Linked DNA regions of Homo sapiens. The protein of the gene in region 1 purifies or fractionates together with the protein of each later gene. This does not show direct contact. Each region holds a gene or a part of one and is shown on either strand. Other genes may lie near its edges.

The links.
Region 2: the proteins of CDKN3 (region 1) and RMND5A purify together in Homo sapiens (affinity purification with western blotting; 2 studies listed by BioGRID, with this or other methods). This does not show direct contact.

What each region holds. Positions count from the first base shown.
Region 1 is NC_000014.9:54,400,636-54,417,391, forward strand, and holds part of CDKN3 (cyclin-dependent kinase inhibitor 3), read left to right. Parts: intron 1-888; coding exon 889-944; intron 945-8,109; coding exon 8,110-8,154; intron 8,155-10,848; coding exon 10,849-11,071; intron 11,072-15,263; coding exon 15,264-15,295; intron 15,296-16,756. UniProt on the Homo sapiens protein: May play a role in cell cycle regulation. Dual specificity CC phosphatase active toward substrates containing either phosphotyrosine or phosphoserine residues. Dephosphorylates CDK2 at 'Thr-160' in a cyclin-dependent manner.
Region 2 is NC_000002.12:86,717,828-86,734,583, forward strand, and holds the start of RMND5A (E3 ubiquitin-protein transferase RMND5A), read left to right. Parts: upstream 1-2,463; 5' UTR 2,464-2,840; coding exon 2,841-2,982; intron 2,983-3,154; exon of another isoform or gene 3,155-3,295; intron 3,296-16,756.

The DNA.
Region 1 (16,756 bases):
ACTATCCCTACTGTCAGAAGAGAAAGAGTGTCCTAAAGGTCTTTTGTCCTGCCATCAAATAGCATTACTTTCCATTTCCACTTAAAACTCCCATTTAAACACAAAAATTCATCTAATTTTCAAAGTCAGGTGGTATTTAGATGATGCCTCCTGTTTTCCTTTAAATCATCTTCTGACATGCAGACAAGGTGAGCCTCTGTCCCTGAGTACTGCAAACTGGGAATATGATTTCTTCACATTATTTCTTTTTAACCAAAAACCTGTGGTTTTCATCATATGAAATTATATCTGTTAAGGAAGTTCTATTTAAAAATCTTAAAATAGTAATGTAGAATAAATGCTGGGGAGAAAATTGTCCAATAGTCATTTTCCAATTCATTTTCCTAAATCACTAATACAAATTATCTCAGGTAATATACCACAGGATAACATAAGTACACCGTATACTACCGGTTGGCAATCTAGGCATTATTATCTTTAAGGTAAATTTAAATTAACTTGGTTTTTTGTTTTCTTGTTTTTTGTAGAGACAGGATTTCACCTTGTTGTCCAGGCTGGTCTTGAACTCCTGGACTCAAACAGCCTGCCTGCCTTGGCCTCTCTAAGTGCTGGGATCATAGGCATGAGCCACTGCACCCAGCCTAACTTGTCATTTTTAAGACTTAAATAATAACAAAGCAAATAAGTCCCTGTTTTAAAACTTTGTCTTTCTATGTTTTTTTTTGTGACCAACATATTGATACTTAACTGTGAATTCTTACTTTGTGACTACTGTAAAACTTTAACACAACTTTATTTGGTGGCAAGCACCCATATTGATTAAACTGAATTTCCATTTATAACTTTTTAAAAACTTAACTAAACATGAAAAATTTTTCTTCTTTTCAGGCTATCTTTGTCACGAGTGAATTGTTCTCAGTTTCTCGGTTTATGTGCTCTTCCAGGTGGGTAACACAATAATGGGCTTCCTATCAATATGTATATATTTTTTAATATATTTTTATTGCAGTAGCTTTTGGGGGGACAGGTGGTGTTTGGTTACATAAATAAGTTCTTTAGTGGCAATTTCTGAAATTTTGGTGCACCCATCACCAGAGCAGTATACAATGTACCCAATGTGAAGTCTTTTATCCTTCATCCCCCTTCCACCTGTTCCCCACCAGCCCCCGAAGTCCAATGTATCATTCTTATGCCTTTGTGTCCTCAAAGTTTACCTCCTGTTTATGAGTGAGAACATATGATGTTTGGTTTTCCATTCCTGAGTTACTTCACTTAGAATAATAGTCTCCAGTGACCGGGTGCAGTCACTCACACCCGTAATCCCAGCACTTTGGGAGGCCGAGGCCGGCAGATCACGAAGTCAGAAGATAGAGACTATCCTGGACAACATGGTGAAACCCCGTCTCTACTAAAAATACAAAAATTAGCTGGGCATGGTGGCACGTGCCTATAGTCCCAGCTACTTGGGAGGCTGAGGTAGGAGAATTGCTTTGACAGGAGGCAGGGGTTGCAGTGAGCCGAGATCGCACCACTGCACTCCAGCCTGGCAACAGAGCGAGACTCTGTCTCAAAAAAAAAAAAAAAAGAATAATAGTCTCCAGTTCCACCCGGGTTGCTGTGAATGCCATTTTGTTCCTTTTCATGGCTGAGTAGTATTCCATGGCATGTGTGTGCGTGTGTGTGTGTGTGTGTGTGTGTGTATGTATATCTCACATTTTCTTTTTTTATTATACTTTACAACCCCACTTTTTGATGGGGATGTTTGTTTTTTTCTTGTAAATTTGTTTAAGTTCCTTGTAGATTCTGGATATTAGACCTTTGTCAGATGCATAGACGGCAAAAATTTTCTCCCATTCTGTAGGTTGCCTATTCACTCTGATGATAGTTTCTTTTGCTGTGCAGAAGCTCTTTAGTTTAATTAAATCCCATTTGTCAATTTTGGCTTTTGTTGCAATCGCCTTTGGTGTTTTAGTCATGAAGTCTTTGCCCATGCCTATGTCCTGAATGGTATTGCCTAGGTTTTCTTCTACAGTTTTTAGAGTTTTAGGTCTTAGGTTTAAGTCTTTAATCCATCCTAAGTTAATTTGTGTGTAAGGTGTAAGGAAGGGGTCCACTTTCAGTTTTCTACATATGGCTAGCCAGTTTTCCCAACACCATTTATTAAATAGGGAATCCTTTCCTAATTGCTTGTTTTTGTCAGTTTTGTCAAAGATCAGATGGTTATAGATGTATGGTGTTATTTCTGAGGCCTCTGTTCTGTTCCATTGGTCTATATATCTGTTTTGGCATGTGTACCATGCTGTTTTTGTTACTATAGCCTTGTAGTATAGTTTGAAGTCAGGTAGCGTGATGCCTCCAGCGTTGTTCTTTTTACTTAGGATTGTCTTGGCTATATGGGCTCTTTTTTTGTTCCATATGAAATTTAAAGTAGTTTTTTCTAATTCTGTGAAGAAAGTCAATGGTAGCTTGATGGGGATAGCATTGAATCTATAAATTACTTTGGGCAGTATGGCCATTTTCATGATATTGATTCTTCCTATCCATGAGCATGGAATGTTTTTCCATTTGTTTGTGTCCTCTCTTATTTCCTTGAGCAGTGGTTTGTAGTTCTCCTTAAAGAAATCCTTCACATACCTTGTAAGTTTTACTCCTAGGTATTTTATTCTCTTTGTAGCAATTGTGAATGGGAGTTCACTCATGATTTGGCTCTCCGTTTGTCTGTTATTGGTGTATAGGAATGCTTGTGATTTTTGCACATTGATTTTGTATCCTGAGACTTTGCTGAAGTTGCTTATCAGCTTTGGGCTGAGACAATGAGGTTTCTAAATATACAATCATGTCATCTGTAAAAAGAGACAATTTGACTTCCTCTCTTCCTATTTGAATACTCTTTATTTCTTTCTCTTGCCTGATTCCCCTAGCCAGAACTTCCAATACTCTGTTAAATAGGAGTGGTGAGAGAGGGCATTCTTGTCTTATGACGGTTTTCAAAGGGAATGCTTCCAGCTTTTGCCCATTCAGTATGATATTGGCTGTGGGTTTGTCATAAATAGCTCTTATTATTTTCAGATACGTTCCATCAATACCTAGTTTATTGAGTGTTTTTAGCATGAAGGGGTGTTGAATTTTATCAAAGGCCTTTTCCAGATCTGAGATAATCATGTGGTTTTTGTCACTGATTCTGTTTATGTGATGGATTATATTTAATGATTTGCATATGTTGAACCAACCTTGCGTCCCAGGGATGAAGCTGACTTGATCGTGGTGGATAAGCTTTTTAATGTGCTGCTGGATTCAGTTTGCCAGTATTTTACTGAGGATTTTCGCATCGATGTTCATCAAGGATATTGACCTGAAATTTTCCTTTTTGTTATGTCTCTGCCAGGTTTTGGTATCAGGATGATGCTGGCCTCATAAAATGAGTTAGGGAGGATTCCCTCTTTTTCTATTGTTTGGAATAGTTTCAGAAGGAATGGTACCAGCTCCTCTTTGCACCTCTGGTAGAATTCAGCTGTGAATCCATCTAGTCCTGGGCTTTTTTTGGTTGGTAGGCTATTAATTACTGCCTCAGTTTCAGAACTTGTTATTGGTCTATTCACGGATTCGACTTCTTCCTGGGAGGGAAGAAGTCCCTTTAGTCTTGGGAGGGTGTATGTGTCCAGGAATTTATCCATTTCTTCTAGATTTCTAGTTTATTTTTGTAGAGGTGTTTATAGTATTCTCTGATGGTAGTTTGTATTTCTGTGGGATCAGTGGTGATATCCCCTTTATCATTTTTTATTGTGTCTATTTGATTCTTCTCTCTTTTCTTCTTTATTAGTCTGGCTAGTGGTCTATCTATTTTGTTAATCATTTCAAAAAAACCAGCTCCTAGATTCATTGATTTTTTGAATGGCTTTTTATGTCTCTATCTCCTTCAGTTCTGCTCTGATCTTAGTTAGTTCTTTTTTTTTTCTTGAGACAGAGTCTCACTCTGTCGCCCAGGCTACAGTGCAATGGCACAATCTCGGCTCACTGCAAGCTCTGCCTCCCGGGTTCATGCCATTCTCCTGCGTCAGCCTCCCTAGTAGCTGGGACTACAGGCACCCACCACCACACCCAGCTAATTTTTTTGTATTTTTAGTAGAGACGGGGGTTTCACCGTGTTAGCCAGGATGGTCTCGATCTCCTGACCTCATGATCCATCCACCCGCCTTGGCCTCCCAAGGTGCTGGGATTATAGGCCTGAGCCACCGCACCCGGCTTGATCTTAGTTATTTCTTGTCTTCTGCTAGCTTTTGAATTTGTTTGCTCTTGCTTCTCTAGTTCTTTCAATTGTGATGTTAGGGTGTCAATTTTAGATCTTTCCCGCTTTCTCATGTGGGCATTTAGTGCTATAAATTTCCCTCTAAACACTGCAGATTCTGGTACATTGTGTCTCTGTTCTCATTGGTTTCAAATAACTTCTTTTTTTCTGCCTTAATTTACCCAGTAGTCAGGGGCAGGTTGTTCAGTTTCCATGTAGTTGTGCAGTTTTGAGTGAGTTTTTTAATCCTGAATTCTAATTTGATTGCACTGTGGTCTGAGGGACTGTTTGTTATGATTTCTGTTCTTTTGCATTTGCTGAGTAGTATTTTGCTTCCAATTATGTGGTCAATTTTAGAATAAGTGCGATGTGGTGCTGAGAAGAATGTATATTCTGATGATTTGGGGTGGAGAGTTCTGTAGATGTCAATTAGGTCTGCTTGGTCCAGAGCTGAGTTCAAGTTCTGGATATCCTTGTTAATTTTCTGTCTCGCTGATCTGTCTAATATTGACAGTGGGGTGTTAAAGTCTCCCACTATTATTGTGTGGGAGTCTAAGTCTCTTTGTAGGTCTCTAAGAACTTGCTTTATGAACCTGGGTGCTTTTATGTTGGGTGCATATGTATTTAGGATAGTTAGCTCTTCTTTTGCATTGATCCCTTTACCATTATGTAATCCCCTTCTTTTTCTTTTTTTATCTTTGTTGGTTTAAAGTCTGTTTTATCAGAAACTAGGACTGCAACCCTTGCTTTTTTTTGCATTCCATTTGTTTGGTAAATATTTCTCCATCCCTTTATTTTGAGCCTATGTGTGTCTCTGCACGTGAGATGGGTTTCCTGAATACAGCACACCAATGGGTCTTGACTCTATCCAATTTGCCAGTCTGTGTCTTTTAATTGGGGCATTTAGCCCATTTACATTTAAGGTCAATATTGTTATGTGTGAATTTTATCCTGTCATTATGATGCTAGCTGGTTATTTTGCCCATTAGTTGATGCAGTTTCTTCATAGCGTTGATGGTCTTTGCATTTTTGTATGTTTTTGCAGTGGCTCATACCAGTTGTTCCTTTCCAGGTTTAGTGCTTCCTTCAGGAGCTCTTGTAAGGCAGGCCTGGTGGGGACAAAATCCCTCAGCATGTGCTTGTCTGTAAAGGATTTTATTTCTCCTTCACTTAGGAAGCTTAGTTTGGCTGGATATGAAATTCTGGGTTGAAAATTATTTTCTTTAAGAATGTTGAATATTGGCCCCCACTCTCTTCTGGCTTGTAGGGTTTCTGCAGAGAGATATGCTGTTAATCTGATGGGCTTCCTTTTGTGGGTAACCCAGCCTTTCTCTCTGGCTGCTCTTTACATTTTTTTCCTTCATTTCAATCTTGGTGAATCTGATGATTATGTGTGTTGGGGTTGCTCTTCTCGTGGAGTATCTTTGTGGTGTTCTCTATATTTCCTGAATTTGAATGTTGGCCTGTCTTTCTAGGTTGGATAAGTTCTCCTGGATAATATCCTGAAGTGTGTTTTCCAACTTGGTTCCATTCTCCCCGTCACTTTCAGGTACACCAGTCAAACATAGGTTTGGTTGATTCACATTGTCCCATATTTTTGGAGGCCTTGTTCATTCCTTTTAATTCTTTTTTCTCTAATTTTGTCTTCACACTTTATTTCATTAAGTTGGTCTCCAATCTCTGATATCCTTTCTTCTGCTTGATCGATTCAGCTATTGATACTTGTGTATGCATCACGAAGTTCTCCTGCTGTGTTTTTCAGCTCCATCAGGTCATTTATGTTCTTCTCTAAACTGGTTATTATAGTTAGCAGTTCCTCTAACCTTTTATCAAGTTTCTTAGTTTCCTTGCATTGGGTTAGAACATGCTCCTTTAACTTGGAGGAGTTTGTTATTACCCACCTTCTGAAGCCTACTTCTGTCAGTTCATCAAACTCATTCTCTGTCCAGTTTTGTTCCCTTGCTGGCGAGGAGTTGTGATCCTTTGGAGGAGAAGAGGTATTCTGGTTTTTGGAATTTTCAGCCTTTTTGCTCTGGTTTTTCCTCATCTTCGCGGATTTATCTACGTTTGGTCTTTGATGTTGGTGACTTTTGAATGGGGGTTTCTGCGTGGGCGTCCTTTCCGTTGATGTTGATGCTATTGCTTTCTGTTTGTTAGTTTTCCTTGTAACAGTCAGGCCCCTCTTCTGCAGGTCTGCTGGAGTTTGCTCGAGGTCCACTCCAGACCCTGTTTTCCTGGGTATCACCAGTGGAGGCTGCAGAACAGCAAAGATTGCTGCCTGCTCCTTCCTCTGGAAGTTTCGTCCCAGAGGGGCACCTGCCGGATGCCAGCTGGAGTTCTCCTGTACGAAGTGTCTGTCGACCCCTGCTGGGAGGTGTCTCCCCGTTAGGAGGCGCGGGGTTCAGGGACCCACTTGAGGAGGCAGTCTGTCCCTTAGCAAAGCTCGAGCACTGTGCTGGGAGATCTGTTGCTCTCTTCGGAGCCAGCAGGCAGAAATGTTTAAGTCTGCTGAAGCTGTGCCCACAGCCATCCCTTCCGCCAGGTGCTCTCTCCTAGGGAGAAGGGAGTTTATCTATAAGCCCCTGACTGGAACTGCTGCCTTTCTTTCAGAGATGCCCTGCCCAGAGTGGAGGAATCTAGAGAGGCAGTCTGGCTACCATGGCTTTTCCACACTGTGGTGGGTTCCGCACCCAGTTCAAACTTCCGACTGGCTTTGTTTACACTGTGAGGGGAAAACTGCCCACTCAAGCCTCAATAATGGTGGATGCCCCTCCCCCCACCAAGCTGGAACATCCCAGGTTGACTTCAGACTGCTGTGCTGGCAGTGAGAATTTCAAGCCAGTGGATCTTAGCTTGTTGGGCTCCGTTGGGGGTGGGATCCACAGAGCAAGACCACTCAGCTCCCTGGCTTCAGCCCTCTTTCCAGGGGAGTGAATGGTTCTGTCTTGCTGGCATTCCAAGTACCACTCAGTTGGAAATGCAGAAATCACCCGTCTTCTTTCTGCATTGGTCTTGCTGGGAGCTGCAGACCAGAGCTGTTCCTATTCAGCCATCTTGCCCGGGAATCCCACATTTTCTTTATCTACTCATTAATTGATGGGCATTTGGGCTGGTTTTACATTTTTGCAGTTGGAAATTATGTTGCTATAAACATGTGTGTGCAAGTATCTTTTTCATATAATGACTTCTTTTCCTCTGGGTATATACCTAGTTGTAGGATTGCTGGTCAAATGGTAGTTCTACTTTTAGTTCTTTAAGGCATCTCCACACTGTTTTCCATAGTGGTTGTACTAGTTTACATTTCCACCAGCAGTGTAAAAGTGTTCCCTTTTCACCACATCCGTGCCAACAATATATTTAGAACAAGTATTTGGTCAACTAACACATCATTCTCTATACTGGGCAATAAGTAAATTTCACAGACCATCAGCACTGGGGAACACACTTTGCGAAGCCCTCATGGTGGACTATAGTTAAAGGAACATAGATCTACCTTTCAGCCCTTCCAGATCTGCAGTCACAGCCCTACACTTGTACTTTGCCAATCTTAATAAAGCTTAAAGCCTGGAGTACAAATGAGGCTGAGGACTACAACCAGGTACTTGTTACAGAAGAAACACAGAATACAGAATCCTTGCTTAGGATGAATCCCTGTAATTATATTCCTAGAAATATAAGAAATTGAAATTCATATTCAAAATATAATTGAAACATATAAATGATTACGTGAAATGACTTTATAAAGTAGCTATATAAGTGTTTAAACATACCTGTTACATATGACGAAAAACTGACTTTTTTACTTGCTTTATTATTACTTATAGGTTGTAAATTTAAAGATGTTAGAAGAAATGTCCAAAAAGATACAGGTAGGTATAATATCACGCAACCACACTCATGGGTTTTTTAAATGAATAGCATTGAAAAACTCTCTGTCAAAAAGAACAAATCAGTTTTTTTTTAATATAAAAATAAGTTTTCAATATTGTGTGAAGTTCCAAACTATAGACTTATTCTGATATGTAAAGAGGTATTTGTGAAGACCATCATTTACCTAACCATGGAGTTGCTTTTCACTGATTGTTGTAGTTATATTATACATATAAACTACATTTGAGGTTAGAATGTAGAAGTTGGCATGAAAAAAAGTATGTAAATAGGAAACTGACATATTGCTCCCCCCAGGTCTTTACTGTTCCTTGCAGACTTGACTGTGGTAGTAGAAATTAAACATGAGCTGGGAACTCCAAGTTAGCAGTGAAATTGTGAATCCTGGATGGAAAATTTTGAGAGCCAGCATCTAGATGGAAAAGACAGAATGGGAACTGGTTGTTGCCTGCTCAAGGATGTTCATACCATTATAGCCACAAGTCTAATAATCCTCATAATCTGCCCCAATTTGGAATTTACATATTGCATGATACTAACAAATGTGGATTTTCAAAAGATTTTATTCTGATTGGCCTGGAATGTCTCAAACCTACTAGTCCTACCGATATCCTTATAGTATGGCAAATTAAAATGTATATATTGCTTGATTCTAACTAGTATAGATTTTCTGAATCTTAAAAACTTTTCGTGGTTATTCTAGAACATCAGTTTGCTAATGTACTTTTAAAAATTTATTCCTGGTCAGGTGCAGTGGTTCACACCTGTAATCCCAGCATTTTGGTAGGCCGAGGCGGGTTGATCGCTTGAGCTCAGGAGTTCGAGACCAGCCTGGGCAACAAGGCAAAACCCTGTCTCTGCAAAAAATACAAAAATTAACTGGGCATGATGGCGCGTGCTTGTAGTCCCAGCAACTTGGGAGGCTGAGATGGGAGGATCACTTGAGCCCAGGAGGTCAAAGCTGCAGTGAGCTGAGATGGTGCTGAGATCACAAGGTCTTGCTCTGTCATCCAGGCTGGAGTGCAATGAGCTGAGATTGCATTACTGCACTCCAACCTGGTGGCAGAGCAAGACCCTGCCTCAAAAAAAAAAAAAAAGTATTCCTTACCTACCAAAAAAAGACTTAAAGACAGTAATAGATAGTTGACCCTTATAGTATTTATAAAACTTTTCTGCTTTAGACACACCCACCATGCTAGGAAATTTCTATTTGGAGAACATTTAGGTCATAAGCAAAATATATGTAATTTAAATCATTGGTTCAAAGTCAGTCTTGTACATTTTGGAATGTCATATTCATTTAGCATTTTCTATAAAAACAGTTTCCAATTTTTTTCAAAATACTTTTTTTTCTGCAATGAAATCTTAAATGGAATCCAGTACATAAAACAGGTCAATATGTTTGATTGGAGACCTAGAATCTCCCTGCAGCAGTTCCTGAGATACTTTCTTAGCCCTTTCTCAGAAAGTTGGAAAATCACTGGATAATAAAAATTACCAAATGTGTACAAAAGGCAAATAGATGTATAGTACTGTACATCTCAGGGATTAGTTCATGAGAAGGTACTTTGTACTTAAATAGCTACATGTCCTTGGATTTAAGGGACAGGGAGAGGGCTGGAGTTGGGAGCACTTAGATCATCCAGTTATTTATTTTAAACCAAATGCTCAATAGTTAATATTGCCATAAAGAAGTCCTAGTGTATAGAATGCCTATAGTATTCATATCATTATAATGAGAATAGCTAGGTCACAGAAGTTTAATACAGGTAATGTTTTATTTACTGGCGACCTAGTCTATAAAATTAAATACACAAGGATGTGTTACAGTGCAGATATGAGGGAGAATACTAGCACCTCTGACACCATGGCCATGCTGGAGATTTTATATACAATACTCAGAGTCAAGCAAACAGCTAAGTGATGAAGTAGCAGACATGGTTGATTTTGTGAGAAAAAGAAAAAAAGTGCTATCATCCTTAATTGAACATAGATCTATCATACCTTAATTGATAGCACTTTTTTTCTTTTTCTCACAAAATCAACCATATTTGCTACTCAATTTTAAGTGTTTTAAGAGTTATTTTATGCCAGGCATGGTGGCTCATGCCTGTAATCCCAGCACTTTGGGAGGCGGAGGCGGGCAGATCAACTGAGGTCGGGAGTTCAAGACCAGCCTGACAAACATGGTGAAACCCCGTCTCTACTAAAAATACAAAATTAGCTGGGCGTGGTGACACATGCTTGTAATCCCAGCTACTTGAGAGGCTGAGGCAGGAGAATCACTTGAACCTGGGAGGCAGAGGTTGCAGTGAGCTGAGATCGTGCCATTGCACTCCGGCCTGGTGACAGAGCAAGACTCCATCTCAAAAAAAAAAAAAAAAAAAAAGAGGGGGGGTTATTTTAAAGCAGTATTCATTGCAAAAAAAAATTTTTTGCAAGAACAGCAATTGACTTATTTTGAAATTCAGTAAAAGGCATTTTGACTTGTAATATGAGGTTTAATTCTAGACCCCTTTTGATTCAGACATATCAATAGGCACTTCAGATTTATAGATTGTCATTTGGTATTAGTTTGGCTTAAGAAATTTAATTTCATATTCTCCCTCTTGATGGTATTTAAATGTGTGATGTTTTCTATGTGTGTGTGTCTGTGTATCCTGGTCTATTGGCAGAAGAACTAAAGAGCTGTGGTATACAAGACATATTTGTTTTCTGCACCAGAGGGGAACTGTCAAAATATAGAGTCCCAAACCTTCTGGATCTCTACCAGCAATGTGGAATTATCACCCATCATCATCCAATCGCAGATGGAGGGACTCCTGACATAGCCAGCTGCTGTGAAATAATGGAAGAGCTTACAACCTGCCTTAAAAATTACCGAAAAACCTTAATACAGTACGTTCTTTTCTCCATACACTATGTGAGAAATGTCTCAGTCAAAATGATTTCTGGAATTATGGTAGCCCTATTCAGTTATCACCTACTTCATAGTTTGTTGTAAGGATTAAAAGGTAATAATGCACTAGGAAAGCACTGGCACAATGTCTGGTACAGGGTAAGTAGTCAAATACGTGCTGTTATTACTTTTCAAGAGTAGGGACAATAAATGAGTAGATTTGGAAATTGTTAGAACAAGGTTACAAGCTTTTCTTTTTTATTTCTTTCCTTTAGTCTTAGACCTTTAGTTGCAATTTTGGGACCCTCCTTTCCCCTCATCACCATCACTGCCTCACTTATTAGCTTTTCAATTGCTTAGTTGCTTTCAATAGCAAGAAAATCAATTTTTTGGCCAGGTGCAGTGGCTCGCGCCTGTAATCCCAGCATTTTGGGAGACTGTGGTGGGTGGCTCACTTGAGCTCAGGAGTTCAAGACCAGCCTGGGCAACATGGCAAAACCCCATCTCCGCAAAAAGTATACAAAAGAACATGCCAGGCATGGTGGTACGTGCCTGTAGTCCCAGCTACTCAGGAGGATGAGGTGGGGGAACTGCTTGAGCCTGGGAGACAGAGGTTGCAGTGAGCCAAGGTGACAGTACTGCACTCCAGCCTGGGTGACAGGGAGACCCCATCTAGAAAAAAAAAAATAAAGAAAGTCGATTTTTTCAAAATTAGCTACCAAAAAAGTTACCTCTAAGCAATAAGCAATCCTAAAAATATGACTTGAAAATTACATTTGATGATATGACTGCTAACAGATTGAAAGAGGGCCTCTCATTGTGTGTCAGTGGCTATAAAAACACAAGCTGCTGGTGTGAAAGTTTAAAACAAAAGAAGATGGGTTAAGGAAAGGGGACAAAATGAGGAGGAAAGAAAAGCAGCTTGGAGGAAGGCCAGAGAGAGTGGCAATGGGCAGTAGATAGTAGCATGGCAAAGATTCAAAGGGGCGATGTGGATAAAAAACAAGAGATGCTCTGCCGGAAGTGAAACACACAAAGCAACAGAGAGCCAGCCATGGGGAGGAAACTGGACTTTGCCGTGCATAATGTATATTTCATATTCTAATAACCTGCTTAATCCTTTCTCGAATAAGGTAGGGTATTAAATAGTTTACGACCTCAAAAGCCCCAAGTTCCTTAAGGACATTGCTTTGAGCTAGAAGTATAGAAATTATATCAAATAGCCATGGGGTTCTCAGGGCACCTAGTCATAGGACAAGCCCAGCCAACTTCTCCTCTTAAACCTATAGCCCAGGGGCCTCATGCCAACAGTGTCAGTTCTGAAGGCAAACCAACTAGTACGAGGGTCTTTGGGGACACACACCTGTTTGTGGCCAAACTGAACTCTGACATACAGAGAAATATAGTTTGCAGAATATGCAGTAGAGAACTAGAAGCCATTCTACATCCTATTGTTTCCCATCTTCCTCTATGGAAAAAGCATAGTCACTTAACCAGTACTAATTATAAAAGCTAAATTTCAAATAGATCCAGTTGATGATGTGAAAGTTTCTGATACATATAGGTAAAATAGTATTAGATAGTTAAATGTAGCTGGGGAAAAATATTTTCCAACATAGGGCCCTATTTTTCAAACCATTTTGAGATCTTTTTTTTTTTTTTCAAATAAATTTTTGAAAGCAGCCTCTACTGAAAAGTTTCCAGAAATCAAACTAGCTCTGTTTAGTGAAGTGAAGCTTAACAAATTCTACTGTAGCTGGTTCTGGCAACCCAAATGCTCTGATGTTTGTGCAGAGTACAAACAGGATAGACAGTAGATGGGTGACTTTGCATATGCTGAATGTTTCAGTCTCCCATAAAATAAAGCATCTGACAACTGGCATTTTTCATTGTCCTAGAGCTTTCGAAGGTGTCCTACGGTGACTAGTTTATTTTCTATCCATTCTGCCATCTTTGAGGACCCACACTTCTAGACAGCTATAGAGCTTATCCTTCAGCAACAGGATCTGGTAAACCTTTTTCACTGACCTGTTGTCTACCAGTGCTGTCTCACTGGTTCTGCCTGGACATTTGCAGCCCTTTATAAAATTAGTGAACAACACTGCTTGCCTACTGTATTTTGTAGTTTCTTGGGGCTATTGTAACAAAGTACCACAAACCAGGTAGCTGAAAACAACAGAAATTTCTTCTTTCCCATTTCTAGAGGATGTAAGTCCAAAATTAAGATGAGAGCAGAGCCATGCCCTCTGAGACTGAGGAGAGTCCTTCCATGCCTCTTCCTAGCTTCTGGTGGTGGCCATCAATCCATGGCAGGCCTTGGCTTGCAGCTGAATCCCTCCAGTCTGCCTCTGTCATCACACACTTCCTCGGATGTCTGTGTCTTTGCATGGTGTTGTCCTTGTGTAAGGACACTAGTCATCTAGGATGAGGGCCTGCTCTAATTCGTCTTAACTTGAATATACCTGCAAAGACTCAAATTCTGAATAAGGTCCCACTCACAGGTACAGGATAAGGACTTCAGCATGTCTTTTGGGGGGACATAATTCAACCAGTAACACCTACCGTGTACCACACGCCAAGACTACCAAACGAGGCACAGTCCCCACCTTCGAGGAACCTATAACTAACACTACCATTTAACTGCAATAAGACAGGAGAGGCAGCACACAGGAAAATGATCCTTTCTGTAGGAGCACAAAGGCATTTTAGGAAATGAAATTTGAGGTTTTAAAAGATAAGTAGGAATTCATCAAATAGAAGAAAAAAGATGAAAATAGCAAAAGGTATAAAATAGTATTAATCTTGCAAAAAGACACTGAAGTGTTCTATCTTGATCTTTTTTTTTTTTTTTAATAAGGCAGTTGTCTCTTCTCTGTCACCCAGGCTGGAGTGCAGTGGCACTGTCATAGCTCACTGTAGCCTTGAACTGCCGGGCTCAAGCGATCCTCCCACCTCAGGCTCCCGAGTAGCTAGGACTTCAGGTGTGCGCCACCGTGCCAGGCTTTTTTTTTTTTTTTTTTTTGGAGAGACAGGGTCTCACTTTATTGCCAAAGCTGGTCTTAAACTACTGGACTCAAGCAGTCCTCCCACCTTGGCCTCCCAAAGTGCTGGGATTATAGGCCTGAGCCATCATGCCCAGCCTCTCCCTTTATATGGTAGATCCAGATCTCTGAAACAGTTCTATGTCTGGAACACTTTGTGGAAAGCAAGTTCACGAGTAAGACTAGGGGTCAATACCTATTCAGTCCTCTATTTCACATCCTAAAGCAAAATATATATCTACAGCTTTACCTACAATACAATACAATACAATACAGTAATTGATGTCCATAACGATAAGTCATCCACACTAAATTAGGCTCAGTATACCCTCTAAGTACATTAGGAAGCATGTAATACATTTTTTAGGATCTTTGAAAATGACTTAAATGAATAGTTTTGCTACTGAGGATTAATCTCCATTTTTCTGGAAAATCCAGTTATACAAAACTGCTAATTTCTTTACAGTGCTAGATAACAGCAGCTAATGTTCATTTACTTCTTACTCTGCACAAAGCTGTGTTCTAAGTCCTTGGCAAATGCTCACTCATTTGTGAGCCTCATTTAATCCTCACTCTGATGTACATACTATTGCTATCACCATTTTAAAGGTGAAAAGGCTGAGTCCCAGAGAGATTAAATAACTTGCTTAGCTTTACACATCTAATAAGTGGCAGAGCCAGGACTGAAGCCCAGGCAGTGGTGCTCCAGAGCCCATGCTCCAGACTTCGGTGATACCCTATCTCTGGACTCCTTTAGATACATGAATGGTTATTATCTACATGGCATTTGTGCAGTAACCACTCAGATTTTGTTTAGACAGAGGAATAATCAAAGTGACAGTTGGTAAAAGTCTGATTTCTATCTATTGGTAACATGCTCCATTTCTCAGATGTGGATCTTGGAACCTAAAGAGGTCAATAAGAAGACTCTGCCTATCTTGATGCTTAGAGGTGTTCAGAATTCCTCCCAACAAAGAAATAAGCACACCTTGCTCTCAGTTGATTAAATCAAAAATATTTATTAATCTTCGTGTGCAAGGCACTGTGCTAGGCATTAGAGTTGTAAATAGAAGGCAGAAAGAGCAAGTCTTTAGTTGTAACTAGGGATGGAATGAAATGTACAAACTTCAAAACTGTATTTCCCTTTCAGCTGCTATGGAGGACTTGGGAGATCTTGTCTTGGTAAGAAATATATTTCTATTATTTTTTTAACCGCCAAATAGACAAACTTCTGTTTCCAGACCATATGTTCATTTTGTATTAAAATGGAACCAAGCAAAATATAAGTTTGCTAAGACTCAAAGGATTACTTAAGGCCCTAAACATGGTGTTCCCTGGAAAGCTTGGGTGGGAGTGGGAGGTATTTTCAGCATTGTTCTGGAGGATTCTGGCAAAACATCATTTACAAGTCTTAACACCTGCATTCTTATTTTTTAACATTTTTTGATGTTCTTCCTGTGGAGGTGTTATAATAGAGTAACTTCCAAATAGTTTCCATGGGTAACTATTTATGAATACCAAAGTTAATTACTATATGTTAATTTAAAAAATGTTTTAATGTACTAAGAAAAACAAAAAAGAGTTCGTGAAATGCCACACTGGAGTAGTAGTTATTTTTTTAGTGTTGGATGATATCAAAATTGAAAGCTTTTGTGTTTCAAAGAATACTATCAAAATGACAAGACTACCCATAGAATGGGAAAAAATATTTGCAATCTATATATTTGATAAGGGATTTGTATCCAGAATATAAAAAGAACTCTTACAACTCAGTAATAAAGATAGGCCGGGCGTCGTGGCTCATGCCTGTAATCTCAGCACTTTGGGAGGCCAAGGCAGAAAGATCACCTGAGTTTAGGAGTTTGAGAACAGCATGAGCAACATGGTGAAACCCCATCTCTACAAGAAATACAAAAATTAGCCAGGCATAGTGGTGCATGCCTGTAGTCCCAGCTCCTTGTGGGACTGAGGCTGGAGGACTGCCTGGGCCCAGGAGGTCAAGGCACCAGTGAACCGAGTTTACACCACTGCACTCCAGCCTAGATGACAAAGTGAGATCGTCTCTCTCAAAAGAAAAAATAATAATAATAAACAAACAACATAACTGAAAAATGGGCAAAGTATCCGAATAAACCTTTCTACATGCAAGATACACATATAGTCAGTAAGCACATGAGAAGATGCTCAACATCATCAGTCATCAGGAAATGCAAATCAGAACCACAGTGGATACCACTTGACACCAATTAGGAAGGGTATTATAAAAACATGAAAAATAACAAGTATTGGCAAGGATGTAGAGAAATTCGAACCCTCATACACTGTTGGTGGGAATGTAAAATGGTGCAGCGGCTTTGGAAAATAGTCTAGCAGTAGTTCTTCAAACAAGTAAACATTAACATATGACCCAGCAATTTCACTCCAAAGTATATACCCAAAGACTTGTATACAAATGTTTATAGCAGCATTAATCATAATAGCCAAAAAATGGAAACAGCCTAAATGTCCATCAGTTGACGAACAGATAAACACAATGTGGCATATCTATACAATGGAATATTATTTGATCATAAAAAGGAATTAAATACAGACATATGCTACAATATGTATGAACCCTGAACACATTATGCTAAGAGAAGTCAG
Region 2 (16,756 bases), on another chromosome or scaffold:
AAACAAAAAAACAAACAAACAAAAAAACCTGCTTGTGGCTGGTGATTATGGTATTGAAGAGTGCAGGACTAGGTTCTAGAAGGTGTCACTAGTTAAAGTAAGACTTGTCTTGTTACTTGAAGAAAGGGAGGATTCGAAAAACAGAATAAAGAAAAGTGTCCCAGAAGAAGGCAAAGTATGAATGGGCTGTACTCAAGTCACACTAAGGGTGGGAAAGTGCTTCATGCCTGGATAGGGGTTTGTGCTGTGTTGCTACACAGGGCAGACCATGTCCTTGAGAGAGGATCTGAAGCTGTAGGTAATGAGGAGTCATTGATTATTTGTGATCAGTGGATTATCATGGCTCTTACCTTGTGCCAGGCATTTTGTTGAGTGCCTTAAATGGAATATTTCATACTATAACAACCCTTTGAAGGAGAAGAAAAAAAAAAGACTGAGAAAAGGGTGACTGAGCTTATCAAGGAGATCCTTGAAGAAAAGGGAGGAATAAACATAGATTTGTCTAGGCAGTTTGGCAGTGAAAGAAATGAGTGCTTGAGGAGGGTTAAATTAAGTTTCCTCCCCCAGGTAGGTCAAACCCATTTGGGCTGAAAGTAGAAAGGAAGAACCTACTGCAGAGAAAGAGGGGGAAGATCTGGACAGGGGTGAGAGGCAGCCCGCAGGCCCCAACGGCTGTCTTGGAAAGGGAGAAGGGACTCCTGGTCCTTTGGGTACATGAGAATGTTCACAAAATGGGTGGTACACAGCAATACTTGGAGAAGAGTGATAGAAGTTGCTGGAGCTAGATTTTTTTTTTTTTTTTAATCTCAGTGAAGAATCAGAGACATCTGCCAAGAGGGAAGAAAAATGGGGTGGGGAGAAGGGAGATCTGAAATAATACCAGTTGGGGCTGCCCTAATAATGACTACTACCACCTTTATCATGTGGTTATCATGAGCCTATTATGGGTATTTACATATATTCTCCTTTATCTAACAATTTAGTTAAGTATTAATTCCAATTATTTCTCAGTTATACGGAAGTTAAGGCTCAAAAACGTTATCACGTTAATTTAAGAAAAAGAATTGCCTACCACCTCACGCCAGGGGCTGTTCTAGGCAAAAAATTTAGACAAGCAGGGGGCCTGCCGTCATGGTTTTATGTAAGTGGTGCAGACAGAAAAATAAAACATCAGATCATTTCAGAGTTTAAGTGGTGTGGAAATAATAAAATGTGTTATGGTATTAACGGTGGGGAGGAAGTACATTAGTGTGGTCAGCCAGGGGAGGACCCTGTAAGGGGACAAGTGAGCTGAGAAGAACTTCAGGATGAAAAAGGTAGGAGGAAGAGTTTTCTGGGCCAAGGAAAGGGCAAGTGCAGAGGCCCTGAGGCACGAACTAGCTGGGCTCCTGAAGAAATGCAAAGGTAGTGCAGCCGATGCTGATCAAGGAGGTCTAGGCCAAGGCTGCAGACGCCATAGCAAGCGATGGGAAGGATTTACCCGAGGGGGTAAAGCCGATCCGATCCGATAGCATAAGGCTTCCTAGGGAGCAAGGGCCAGGCTGCCCGGCTCTCCAGCGCGTGTTCTTTCCACCCGGCTAAGCTGCCCGGCACATGGCTCTGGGGCGAGGCCACCGTCAGGAGAGGTTCCAGGCCAAGGGGCCAAAGGGCCACGGTCCGCGGGGGATGGGGACATGACCTCCTGGGTGTCGCAAGCCCGGGGCAGCGCTGACAGCCGGCGCGGGCCTTTCGCGAGCAGCAAGCGGCTCCCCTCACCCGGGCCCAATCACCCCCGCCTTTAATTCCCATTAGGGACCCCCCGCCGACGCAGAACCAGCCCCCGGGCGGCCTGGCTTGGTTTTTCATTCCCGGGAGATGGATCCGTCGCCCAAAAGTTCGGAATGACGGTACCCCTTTCCCTTAAGATCGATGAGGAGACGAAATAAATTGGGATCAGGGCGACGTCCTATGGAAAACAGCCTTTTGTATTTTTGTCTAGTTTTCCCCCAAGGCTTTCCATAAACTACTCGTTTCTCGGTACGCTCTCCAAGTCACCCCCTCCAACAGCGAGCCCGTTGGTTTGGCCCCTCAGCCCGGATTGGCTGAAGGCTTACGCCTCGGCCAGGGATTGGCTTCTTACCACTCCCCGCGCCCATTGGTTGGGGTTCCCCGCTTCTGGGCGGAGTGGTGAGGGCCGGTTTCCGCCTCCTTGTTTATGGAGCGCGTAGTTGTTGCGCTCTCCGAGCGCTGGGGCTGTCTCCAAAGTTCCCTATTTAGCTCCTCAGGCCAATTGGGGCCTCGCTCCACCCTCGCCCTCTCCCTCGCACGCCTTCCGTGTGGTACGGCCCACACCATTAGAGTGGCGGCGCGTGTGGGCGCCCGTCGCGTTCCTCCGCCCGTTCTCGCCGGGTCGCACCCCCCACCCCGAGGGTGTACTTGGTACGGCCCGCGCCGCCTCCTTTCCTCGCCCGGGTGGCCATCCCCCTCCCCCCAGTCGGCGGCGCTTGGTGCCGCCCGGGAGAACCAGGTCATCGGTCGGTTCCCGTGAAAACAAAAACAATCGGCCGCGCCGTCGCAGGCACCCGAACGTCGCGAGCGGGGCCTGGGGACGCGGAGCCGAGTGCAGCGAGCGAACGGGAGCAGCGGCGACTCGCCGGGGGGCTAGGGCGCCATGGGGCAGGCGGGCTCCGGCTGCGCGGGGCTCCCCCGGCGCCGCGGCTAGTGCGCCCGCCGCCTCGGCCGCCTCAGCCTCCCGCGCCGCCCGCTTGGGGAACGAGGAGCAGGACGCGGCCTCGGTGGGGCCCGGGCCGAACGGCTGCGGACACCTGGGCGCCGAGGAGCCGAGCGCCGCCGCCTCCGGCATGGATCAGTGCGTGACGGTGGAGCGCGAGCTGGAGAAGGTGCTGCACAAGTTCTCAGGCTACGGGCAGCTGTGCGAGCGCGGCCTGGAGGAGCTCATCGACTACACCGGCGGCCTCAAGCACGAGATCCTGCAGAGCCACGGTAGGGCGGCCCGCGTGGGCGCGCGGGGCATGGCCCACTGCCCGAGCCCCGGTCCCGGCCCCGCGGCGGGAATCCCTCACCCACCCTCGCGCCTCTGGCCCGGCCCTTGCCTCCCCTGAGGCGCGGAGGCCCCCAGACCCCTGAGACTTTTTCCCCTCTTCGTCCGATTTACCTCGAACCTGCCGCGACCTCGCTGCCAATTCAGAAGGAGCGCGAACCACCCGGAAACCCAGCCGGGAGCGGCGGGCTCCAGTCCGGATAAACGTGGGTGAGGGGGCCGCCCATCGCACCTGCAAACTGCCGACCCCCGAGTGGGCGCCCCTCGTCCCCCGCTCCCAGCCGGCCCCGGGAGTCTCACGTGGTGCCCGCGGCGCTGTTCTGTGGGCGGTGACTGAATCGCCTGGGACCCCAGGTTCTGAGTGATGAGGGCAGTGCAGGAAGCTCCGTTTCCCCTCTGTGCCGCCCCGAATCCTTGGCCAGGGGACTTCGTTTCTTCGTTTTATTTTGGAAAGTCGAGCGTTATTCTTAGCTGTGGGTTAACAACAGCCGCTCCTGCAACTTCATGATTTGGCTGCTGTGTGGACGCAGCTCTTAACTCCGCAGCGGCTCTGACATGGTTCCTTGGAAACCAGCTCAATTCAACCCTTCTGTTCTCCCAGTGTACCTTCTGATGACACCGAGGAGGAACGGGCGACATTTGCCCAAGTAAATTGTGCACATGTTGCTAGTTACTTGCTTTGCCTGGTTAAGTTCGTTCAAAAAAAATAAATTTTCCTATAGAAGGTGTTTCACCTAGATTGTTTTTTTTTTTACTGCCCCAAGCCCTGAGGACAGGTACTTTTAAAGGTTTGGTTTTCTTACACTTTAGAAGTCACAGCGATGATTCCTTTTGATCAAGAAGTGAAGGACTTATTTAATGGGTCTTTAATAAGAGGCTGAGGGGGCTTTTCAGCTTGTGGGCTGAACAGAAATTTATGTGAAGGACGGTTTGGTAGCTGGGGGAAGATGCAGATTATTTGTGGCAGGTGAGATGAGGGCAGTGGCGTTAGCTGAGTGTCTCTCTCCTTCTCCTTCATTTTTTCACACTTTCCCAGACTGCGTTTCAGTTGAGGATGGGTGCTGGTCCATGGGAAAGGAGTCTTACAGCAGCTTCTCATTCTGGACACTGCAGTCATTTTTGAACTCCAGGAAGGAAGCAAACCTGCAGTCATAGTGGATGAGATTTTAATATGGAAAAACCGTATTAATTCTCATAGGAGTTGCAATACTAGTATGGAAAAACGAGCAGACCTTGGTGGCTGCCTGTGAAGGGAAATTTGACTGACGTGGCGATGATGATATAGTTGGTAGATACAGGGAAGTGAAGGTGGAATGGGACAGGAATCCTGGGAAGACTTTGAATTTGGTTTTGGACATGTGAAGTAAGGTTGAAGGGCTTAATGAAGATAGAATCGAGGGCTTTCCTATTTACTGGTGGCTGGAGATGCATAGGTCTAAGATTGTTTTCTGATGTCATTTCTAGGAGGACAGTGGAGGGGATCACTTAGATTGCACAGAAGAAAGACTAGAGTCTAACCACAGTCTTGAATTTTCCTTGGCGAGTGGAGAGCCAAGGCTAGATAGAGCCAGCAGAAATCGAAAAGGGCGAGGACTTAGAAAAGGAGAGATTGGTCAGCTTTTATTTGGCTATTGGGAGTCAGTAACCCTCTGTGCTTGCAGTTTCATAGAATTGCTAAGACAAGCCAGATTACTGGGGGTTAAGAAGAAAAATTCGATGTGAACCGAGGTGTGGGAAATCCAGTACAGCGGTGGGAGGTATTCCCTCTGTGCTCCCGGCCCTGCCAAGGAACCAGTGGAGGAAGAGAATGAAGGGCCTAGACTTGGAGAGGTGGAAGGAACATTTCGTTTTTAGGGACCAGGTCATAGGCAGAGTTTGAGAGGAAAATGATGGAACAGAAAGTACCTTTCTTCCATGAGAGAGGATGTAAGTTGAAGGGGGATGTGATTGTGAGCTTTGTTTTAGAAAATTTAGGGCCAGGCTCAGATGGATAAAATGATGGTGAGAAATTGCTGAGGCAGGAATTTGTTTTTGACTCTCCACTGGGTACTAGGGAACTTTTCTCAGAATTTATGGTTTGAGGGGTATTGGCCACACAGTATGCTATGCTGTTAAAAACAGTCTGAGTTGGTGAGTTTGTGTGTTCCCTTTTCAGCCTCCTAATTTTTTCCCTCTTGTCTACCAAATTGCTAGTCTTATATTGGTATCTCTTTGATTTCCTTTAATTCTTCAATAATAGGATTAAGTGACTAAAGGTAGTTATAAAACATGAAAGAAAATAAATACCACAAGTGCCAGGTCTAGTTTCCCAAATAAAATCTTTCTTCTTTTGGTGTTTTTTTGTGTAAAGATAAACATCATGCTTTGGCATCTGGGCTATGGTATTTTTGAAAACAGATGATTTCTAAATTAAAGTTCTCGGCAGGTGATGTGGTAGATATTACATTGAAACTTAAATATGCCCTTCTCAAAGGTATTTTACTGAAAACTGAGTTTGGAACTCTATTTTCAAGTTTAAAGGGAAGATTTTTGGGCTTCTGAATATACCTGTCTGGGCAAATGATTCTGATAACCTGAGAGGCTCTAATTGGGACCCCTCTGTCAGGACTTTGGACCTCATTCTCTGAGATTACTTGTGGTAATACTTGCAAGAATCTGGTATGAATAAAACAGAATTTTTGAGGACTATATAGAACACATCATTGCATCATACTGGTGAATGACTGTTGCAGAAGCATCCTTTAGCCAACCTAAAGGGATTGGTTCAGTTTCTGAGGATGAATGTTTTATGTTAAAATTTTTTTTTCATCTCTGAAGTTGTGAGCAGACAGCTATATACTAAATGAGCTGTTAGGATAGTTTGTGATGGAAACTGATCATACATAAATAAGAGTTTAGTTAGTAAGCCCATTGACAACCCTTTTCTAGTCTCAGCACCCTTATTCCAGATTGTAAATACTGCCTGATTGCTGGCTGGGAGATAGTCCTGCAGTGAGCCCTAAAATTTCTCAGGTGGTCTAAATCACCTTTAAGTAGCTTGAAATTCTTTTACATAAAATTTCTCTCGTTAATCTTTTTTAAAATGCAAGTTTCTTAATGCAGATACACTTGGGGAAATGAGGATAGTATGGGCTGGTCTCTCATACCTGGTGAATTGGTTTGTGCTCTGCCATTTAATCCACCTCTGGCCAAATCCGTCAGCCTGACAACAGGAATATCTTTTTTTTTTTTTCTTTTAAATGGGGTTGGACTGGTATCAGGCCTGCAGCAGAGAACAATAATGGAATATAAGGCTCTGAGAGGGAAGTGCAGGCTTCGACTTGGTGCCATAGACAGTTAGGGAATATTGGTGGTTCAGGGACAACATAGGTGTAATAGAAACATGAAGAGGCAATAAGAACCAGGGAGAATACTGAAGAGCTCTGCCGAGGCCAAGACATTCCTCTCCCTGGAGACTGACTCTAGACTTCTCTTCATGCCTTTGGAATTAGAAACCTTAGGGTGGTAGATAGGAGGGTGGGGAGTGATCCAGAGCCTGCAGTGAGGTGTCCAAGGTAAGAGGAATAGAGATCACAGCTTCTGTCATTTAGTTGTGCCAGCCTTTCAGTGAGAGTTTCCCTGTGAGCACGAAGTTTGGTCTAAGTTCATTGTGGTTAATGTAGGCTGGTGGTCATTCCCAGTGTGCCTCGATCTAATTTGTATAGTGCACTGGTGCTTCTAAAACTTCACTCATACACATGTGCACTCTTATTTTTCAGATGGATTCACGATTTTACTTAAGTAGATTTATCTTAGGCAGTGATATTTGTGTAGTCCTACATGTGGTATGTAGGTATTAGGTATAATAAACTACATGTTAAAATAAATTCATAACAATTAAAATATTAGTTTACATACTAGCTAAAATTACCATTCGCATCAGTGGTATGGGAGCGGTGCTTTGGATAACCCTGGCTTAACAGGGTTAACTACTGTATGGTTAACTTTTAGTGATTTGATTTGTGAGTATATGCCTTTTAGCATTTTTTTCCTATTGGCAAATTTATATTGTTTCCCATTAGCACCTCTGTGGTGGAAGGGAAAAACAGAAAAGAACTATTTATCATGTTTTGCTGGTATTCTGCACTCATACTTTGTGAAAGAAAATTAGGCAGAAACAGTTGGTAATGGTTTCAGGACACATTTAAAAGTATACTTGGGAAAATTGCAGTTTTTGTAAGAGTAAAGGACATGCAGTATTCTTTTCTGATTATTTTTAGACTAACGGAGTTCTAATGTGGTTTCTGAAAGTGACTTTCAAGGAATTTTCTAAATTTAAAATTTATTTATTAATTTTTAGTAAGTCATACATTCAAATGGTATCCATTCAAACAATGAAAAAGATAACCCAGTGAATAGTACATTCAAATGGTATAAACTCAAATGATAAAAAAGGACACCCATTGAAAAATCTTTCTACTCTTGTTCCTGGACCACCTGGTTGCCCACTTCACAGACATAAATGCCAGTCTCCAGAAAAAAAATTTTTTTGTTGTTTTTTGAGACAGCCTCCCTCTGTCACCCAGGCTGGAGTGCAGTGGTGCGATCTTAGCTCACTGCAACCTCCGCCTCCTGGCTTCAGGCAATTCTCCTGCCTCAGCCTCCTGAGTAGCTGGGATTACAGGCACCACCTGCCACCATGCCTGGCTAATTTTTGTATTTTTAGTAGAGACGGGGTTTCAACATGTGGGTCAGGCTGGTCTTGAACACCTGACCTCAAGCAGTCCACGCGCCTCGGCCTTCCAAACTGCAGGGATTACAGGCGTGAGCCACTGCGCCCGACCTCCAGAAAAAATTTTAAAAGAATCCAGTGAAATGACGATTTGTCACTTTTCCTTTTTTCTTTAACGCATCAGATATGTATTTCCATTTACTATGATTAAGGCTTAGTGTTATCTCACTTTGCAAGTTGGTAAAGATGTCTTCATCTGTGGGAGTGATCAACATATACTGTATTAGCACCTAAAACTCCTTTGGTGTGTGTGTATGTTGTGACTTCTAGTAGTAAAACTCATGTAAACCATAACTCCTACCCTTATCTCTTTGGTGAATCAAAGAAACTGTTGAAACTTTGGTTACCAGTTGGAGAACTGCTTTCTTTTTAAAAATGTGAAGGTAACAAATGAGAAGGTAAGTAGGCAAGTAAAACATGAAAAACAAAAAAAGAAACTTGTGGAGGTCACATTTTTAACTCATTGCTGTGGTATGATATTGCATCAGTACACAAAAACCAGAGGTTGAGGGTCGCATGTTAGGTATAATCTTCCAATCTAGAATTTGGGTTGTGTATATTAAACACATGTGTTGAAAAGTATGCTTATTTGTATATATGAATGATCTGTGCTTTTTCAGAGCCGACCAGTGTTGAATATATTGTTTTGAATGAAAGTAAATGTATTATATCGGGGCTTGGTAGACTTGTAGCTTGTTTACCTTTTTAGCCTTATTCTTTGGTGTGCATGGAGTAGGCCTCATAGCCAGGTTGCCCATTTGTTACCCAGACTTTTGCTAAATACTAACAAGACACTCTTGAGAGAATAGTGACTTTGTTTTGAATACAATTTGATATCTGTTTTTAACATCTAGTCTGGAAAATAGTATATCAGTAGGTCATAAATAAAAGTTTGGGAGGACATTGTTCAAACATTCTAAGAGAAGAACAGACTGGTTCTCAAGTTATTTAGGCCATTTTAGGTGGTAAGAATAAAAAGTCAGTATATTGGTGTTTCCAGTTGGGTTTAGAAGTAGATTTAACTTTGTTAGCCATTCTTTTTCCAGACGTACTCTGGAGATAATTAATTCTTTTTTATTTGGCACCGTATTCATTTAGACTGGCAGGTGACATAATAGTGTTCATTAAAATGGAATTTGTTGATGTATAAATAGGCTGAGGTTAGGGCTAGGCTGGCTCCAGGGGCACCAGGCATGTCATCAGGACTGATCTTGTTCTCTTCTGTCAACTGTTGGCTTTATTTTCAGGGTAGTTTTCTTCACATGGGGTAGAGATGACCAATGGAGCTCAAAAGACAGGAACATGGCCATTTTGTTGGAGATACTCCAGGGAGTACCTTTATTATTCCGTTATGGATCCTTTCCCTGAATCAGTAACTGGGACCAGGGAGTGAGGTCTTCTGGCCACCTTGAGCTGTGCTCACCCCCTCAGGAGGTATATGGCCTTATAATACACTGTTCATCAGGTAAAGAGACAGTTCTAGAAAGGAACACTTAAACCCAGACAGAGTAATATATGTCTATTACAGTGCAACAGCTACATGTTATATCAGTAACATTCTCTGAGATGTTTTCCTGACTAGCCTCGCCTTCTCAGCTTTTGCCTGGCCTCCTAACTATAATGCTCATATAATTCAAGTAGTGAGTTGTTAGTATGACTTAATCTATAGACTAGAGAATACAACTTGGTTCATGTTCCTCTAGAACTTTTTTGAAATTACTTTAATGCTTGACATAGTAAAGTAATTTTCCTAAAGTTATTTTATTTCTAAAGTAGTTTCTAACTCTGGATAATAACATTGGTAAGGAGAAACTTGCCAACACTTCTGTGATACTGTCATACTAGAGCTAATAGAGAAGTTTCTGTTGTTTTCATGTCTTAGTCTCTTAGTCTTTAGGATGATGAAAATGGTGTTTTAGCAAACTGTTCACTTGGAATATTAAAACTAACTTATTTTTATTTAGGGCCCTGCTTCTTCATCTGTAAGGCTTCCAAAATCTTTAAAAATGATCCAAAAATGCAGTTTAGGGAGAAAATTGTGGAGGGCCCTGGCTCTGAGCTATGTGTACTTGGAGACCCGTGGTACTTCCAGGAGATGATGCTCTCTAACTGGACGTTTCCTTGAAAGCTCTGAGAGTAGCAGACACTTCTGGCCATTCTCTTTAGATTAGATGTTAACTCAACCCTTCAGAGAACAAAGACTAGACTGTCTGGCAGGACTCGAGGATTTTGAGAAATACAGTATGCTTTCACCTTATATGGGTGTGGTGATTGTGTGGCTGAGCTCAAAATGGTTGTTTGGGAATGTCGCTTGGAGAGGCCATAGGCTTATATTACCAAGTCTTTCTCCACTTAAGATGGAGGCCTGGATGGTGATTTCGTCTGTTATGGGGGCACAATGTAGTGTCAGGCTGTGTGTTATTTATGATGAGTTTGTTGTATCTGCAGAATTCATATAGGTTTAATTCATCTTATTGATACATGAAGACATTTGGGAGGAGATGAGGAGAGAATCTTTTAAAAGAAACATTATTCATGGCCCTGGTCCTCCAGGAACTTGGAGGCTAATTGAGAAGATGAATCTGTATTTGTGGAATAGTACCTAAAATTTTGACCCTGGGCCCAGGAGGTCTGGGTTTGAATCCTTGCACTGCCAATTTACTGGTTCTACAATCTTTTTTTTTTTTTTTGGAGACAGAGTCTCACTCTGTCACCTAGGCTGGAGTGCAGTGGTGTGTGATCTCAGCTCACTGCAACCTCTGCCTCCAGGGTTCAAGCGATTCTTGTGCTCCCAAGTAGCTGGGATTACAGGTGTGCACAATGCATGGCTAATTTTTGTATTTTTAGTAGTGACGGAGTTTCACTATGTTGGCTAGGCGGATCTTGAACTCCTGGGCTCAAGTAATCCACCCGTCTCAGCCTCCCAAAGTGCTGGGATTACAGGCATGAGCCACCACGCCCGGCCTGATCCTACAATCTTGCTTAGCCAGTTTTTCCTTCAGTAAACTGACATCACAGAGTTATGAGAGTGAAATAAATAATAGACGTGAACTGGCTTTGAAATTTGTAAAACAGGGTAGACGTGTTATTTATAAAGTCTGTGCCTTAAGTGGTGTTAAGCTTTTTTTTTTTTGAGGCTGAGTCTCGCTCTGTCACCCAGGCTGGAGTGCAGTGGCATGATCTTGGCTCACTGCAACCTCTGCCTCCCAAGTTCAAGCGATTCCCCTGCCTCAGCCCCCGAGTAGCTGCGATTACAGGCGCATGCCACCAGGCCTGACTATTTTTTTTTTGTATTTTAGTAGAGACGAGATTTTACCATGTTGGCCAGGATGGTCTCGATCTCTTGACCTCGTAATCTGCCCGCCTTGGCCTCCCAAAGTGCTAGGATTATAGGCGTGAGCCACCACGCCGGGCCCAAGCACTGTTTAATTGAGACATTTTGGGTAATATTTAGGTGTCTTTATTACTGGTTTATGTTAAATACCACTCTGTGTCCAGTGGTCTGCTTAACATTGTAAAGAATGCTTAAAAGGTATAAGAAAGAGTCTTTAAGGAACTTAGAAGTTAGTTGGAGAGACCAGACTCATATTTGAAAGGGGGAAAAAACAAGACCACGGCACACAGTGTATAACAGTGCTTCTGGTGAGTACAGACACCAGTGAAGAGAGAGAGCCCTTAGAAAGAACTGCATGGGAGTAGATGGGCATTATTTCAACTGAACTTTAGATCACCTCATCAGTAGTTATTAATCACCATTTATAGGTAGAACTAAGCAAAATCTTCTAGGAGTTACAAAGAACAAGCATTTTCATCCTCTAAGAACTTTGTGTCCAGTTAGGGAGATGAGACTGGCATTTTTTAACAAACACACAAACAAAAGCAGTGCCCTGTAATGCACGGTTATGTATCTAGGCTAGATGCTACATGAGTGGTGTGGACAAAAAGGGGTGGGATTTGAGACAAGGAGAGACTCTTTTTACCTATGGGAAGTTTTAGTAGCAGAGATTGAATATGGATAGCAGAAAGAGCAGATGGAGTGCCTGGAGGGGAGGATGGCAAGAACAAAGGTGTAGAGGAGTGAGAGGTGAAGGACCAGATTGCAGGGGAAAGGCGATAAGAGCATTAAAATTAAATTGGAATCAGGTTTTGTAAAGCCATGGATACCAGGGAAAGTAGTAGACTGGGAAGATATTGAATTACTTTGGGGTGGGGTGGGGACATTTTGAATAGGGAGGGGACAGGGACACGATCAGAGACCAGTTGTCAGCAGTATTTAGGTTGGTTTGGAGTTGGGAGTGAGGTTTGACTAGAGGCAAGAACGTTAGCTAAGGCTAAGTGTCAACCTAGATTTGATGAAATAGGGACCTGTCTTTGGGTACTGGTGGTAGAAATTTAAAGGGACACATGAAAGGGATTTCTGAGGGAAGGAATGACCAGGAGTTGGTGCACAGATGGAGTCTGGCAGAGTAGGAGAAAAGGGCAGGAAAAACCAAAGGTTAATCCAAGGTTTTAAACATGAATGATGGGTAGATCATTATGGAACCAGGTAGAAAATAGGAAGTTTAGGAGAGGGGAAGGTGGAAATCTGAGTTTGATTTTTTTTTGTTTTTGTTTTTGTTTTTTTGGGGGGTGGGGGAGGGGGGGTCTCATTCTGTTGCCCAGACTGGATTGCAGTGTCTCGGCTTACCACAATCTCTGCCTCCTGGGTTCAAGTGTTTCTTCTGCCTCAGCCTCCTGAATAGCTGGGATTACAGGCATGCGCCACTACCGCCTGGCTAATTTTTGTAGTTTTAGTAGAGATGGGGTTTCACCATGTTGGCCAGGCTGGTCTTGAACTCCTGAACTCAAATGATCCACCCACCTCGGCCTCCCAGAGTGCTGGGATTATAGGCGTGAGCCACTGCACCTGGCCTGAGTTTGATTTTTAAATATGAAATCCAGATTCCAATGCTACAGGAAACCTAATGTGGTTCCACCATTCATTTCAGAGATAAATGAGATGCCTAGAGATTAAGTCTTTATATTTGGAATTTGAAGGGAGTGAATAGGTTCTCTAAAATGTGACTGTCACAGACATATGTTTAAAATCTTGTGCCTGTATCTTTTTTCTTCTCTCTGCAATTCTTGCCTCATATACTTTGAAGCCTTTCCTGTCTTCTCTATGATAGTCATTGATACTGTTCTTTGCTCCAGGAGCACTATTAGTCTGTACCATGTAATTTCACTCTAAATATTAACTTTATTTCGTTTTTTTCCCCTCATGTTTGGTTTGCAGCACACTGTGCCTCTAATTTGATGCACAGTCTTTAATAATCTCTCTGGATCAGAACACGTGTCTGTCAGTCTACTGTTCTCTGAAAGGTCAGGAGTTGAACACCAAATACCATACTTTCTTTTACTTTGCAGATTTACCAGCTACTAATATACTGGAAAAATTTTGTTTTCAGTGTTTACCTCCTCCAGAAAAAAATGAATGTGTTCTATTTGTGCCTTTTCTCTTTCCTCTAAGCAGCCGCTGTGTCCTAGGTGCTGAAGTAGCTCACAAGAATCCCAAATTTCAATGGGCCGCAGTTTATTTTACTACAGACAAAATGAAATAGTCCCTTATTTTTAAAAAATTCCAACCTTACCTTTTCAAGTTTCAAGTTTTTCTATTCTAGTACTTCGCAAGGATATCCATGGTCACCTTGTCAGTGACTTTTCTAGAGTCAGTCTTAGATCTTTTTATCCTTTATCTACTTTATTCCCATTCTAAATTTCTTAAATCTGTGTAGAAATTGGTAACATGGGAAAAGTATCTTGAACATTGCTGACACAGGCCTTCAGCACTCAATAAATGTTAATTGACTCTAAATGTTATAGTTCTCCCTTTTACATTTTTTTCTGTTTTTTCTTGGTTTCATTTTGTATTTTAAGGCATCAAGGCTTTTATAAGAGTGGTATATCATAGATTTCCCCCCCCACCAGCCTTCTTAGTGATGCCTAATACTCTTTTAGCTTTCTGATTTTAGTGTTTTTATTTAAATAGCTAATCTAGAATGAATTCTGGAGTATATCTCTATGAGGTCTGAGTTTTCATTTAGGTACAGTTAGGTTTGTTTCCTAAATGGATTTCTTTGTATTTATCTGCATCAAAACTTGTGTTCCATTTTGCTTTCCACTTAATTCTAAATTTAAGATCTCTGTCCATCTTATGAAAGTGGAGTTAACTTTTCATAACTCAGAAGAGCTCAAATGCGATACATGTAATATTTATAAACTTGGATATTTTAAATTTTTACTGCCTATAGGATATTCATTAAAATGTCAAGCCAGGTCTTAGTGATTTCTGCGGAATCTTATTTCTGTGGAAATATTCCAGTCTTAGGTGGTGATACTTTCAACCTTCTTGAAAATCATCACCATAACAATACTTTTTTATATTGTGCCTCCCTATTTTTTTATAGAGTGCTCTCAAGTATGGTGGGTCTCATCTCTCATGTGTTTGACTCGTGGGCAGCATGTATTTCATGGTGTAATTGACACCTTTAAACTGCCTTTTATAGACCAAATTAGAACTTTTTATTATCTCCTGATGGCAGACATTTCAGGCTGCAACATGGTGTGCTGCCTACCAACCAGCTGTTTAGTTTTAGCAATGCTATCTTTAACAGTGTGTTTGTGCAGTTGAACCCCCTCCCCCCATATCATAAAAATAAGTGGCAGACGGAAAATTAAAAGTGCAGATACTGAGTAGGGATGAGAAACGTACTTGTCAATATTAATGATATATTTGTCTAGATTGTATTAAGGTGAGCCAAAATAGTGGGTAAATCTTGTCACGGAGCTGGACACGAGACGTGCTTTTTTTTGAGGCTTGTGATCAGTAGGGAAGAAAGTAAAACAAATGTATGTACAAAATGCTAAAAGTGTATTGAAGGTGTAACCAAGGTATTAGTAGGGATTTTATAGTTTTTAGCTTTGTGCAAACCAGTCACCCTTTTAATGTGTACGTTTGTTATACCTTCCTATATTCTGACTTAGAATATACTTTTATAGGGTCACATTATATATTAGAGATGTTTCATTGCATCTTTGACAAATGTGGAAATAGTTTTGTAAAAAAGAAACTGTCTCAAAAGTGACTTGAGTCAGAGCACAAGCCCATTAATTCCTGGGGTTGGTGGGAGAGGTCATTATTTGGAAGAGAGAAGGAACTTATAACTGATGCCAGGGGACTCTTTTGTGAATGTGTCTTATTTGAAAATATGTGTGCATATGTGTGTTTGTATGTTTGTGTTGATCTTGGGTACTGTGACCTTGTTGAACTCTCATCTATTCTTGGATTGTGTTTGTGTGTAGATTCTTTGGGATTTTCTACTTAGGCAATAATGTTATTGACAGACAGGAACAGTATTATTTCCTAACTTACTTGGTATTTGCAGAACTTAGGCTGCAGTGTTACTGTGTAGAAGATGCTAAACATTCTGTGAGAGAGTGAGGGGTCAGTGGACTGCTGAGTGAAACTGCTGGCAATTTCAGAGGGTGTTGGTAGTACCAGACAGTCTTCAATGCTGGGTTTGAAATTGAGATTATGTAATACATAATTAATTATTTTCATATTTATTCTTTTGGTAACTAGTTACTGAACGTGTAGTATTTGCCAGTTACTATACTAAACGTTGGGGATTGGTCATATTTCCTACTAAAGTTAATTTTGTGGGAGTAATGGACAAATAACTATTTACAACAAAGTGTGAAACTCTGATAGGGAAGTATAGGATGCTATGGAAACAAACATTTTTCTTATTTATTGTTTCTGTGAAACTAGTGGGCATACATCCTAAAATGGCAAAGCAGTGAGGCTCAAGGGCAGAACTTGAAAATTTTGAGTATCGTGCTTAAAATCTGTTTATATGATAAAAGGTGCTGTTCTATTTTATTGAAAATTTTAACTTAATAAAGCAACACACGTAGATGGTCTACATATGTTCGTTCTTTGCTTATATTGAACATGCTAATTCTTACACTTGTTTAATCATAAAACTGACTTTAAAAAGTACTTGTGACCCTCCAGTGATGAGTGAGCATTGCGTCAGAGTTGTTTCTTTCAGGCTCATGCATTGGGCCTGGGTTCCCTGGGTTTACTACATTGGAAGACACAGTTAGTGCAGGACTTTCTTCTGGGTGACAAGTGACCACCGCAGTGGCCAACCTGGATGTAGTTATGGTGGAGATGGCTGTCACAGTAATTCCCCAGCTTTTCTTCTAGGAACTGAATCCAGTTTCTTTCACATAAAGGTTCTCCTAGAAGCAGGTTGTGTTTTCATACAGAGAAATCAAAAGAACATTAGAACTCTCCCAGTAGGACTTATAGAAGTTTGGTTGACTGTCAGTCTGGTCATTATAGCAATTTTCAAACCTGTTTTAAACCTTTGGCTGCTTTCCACTGAGTCCATTTGAAAATGCATTAGTGAACTCTTTCTCTCTTAACAGGGCTTTCCCAGGGTTCTCTTTCAGATTATTCCATTCTGCTTTTCTTGAGTTTCCAAATACCTTACAGAAATTATTTTTCCTTGGAGCATTCTGAGAACTCTCAGTATTAATTAATTGGCCATAAACTGCTTGTATCTGTCATTCATAAAATTGAAAACCAAAAATTAGAGGAATTTGTAGATGGTAAAGGAAGAAAAGGAGGTAACAAATAGCACCAAACTCCAGATATGTAAGTTACTACGATTTGAAAATATCAGTGGATTTCAAGGTTGGTGCGTGGAAGTTCAGTGGTAAATTCTAGGTGACCTCTTTCCTCCAGCTTGGCTTCATCCTTTTTTATTTTTATTATTATTGTTTTCGAGACCGAGTCTCGCTCTGTCACCGAGGCTGCAGTGCAGTGGCGCAATCTCGGCTTACTGCAGCCTCTGCCTCCAGGGTTCAAGCTATTCTCTTGCCTCAGCCTCCTTAGT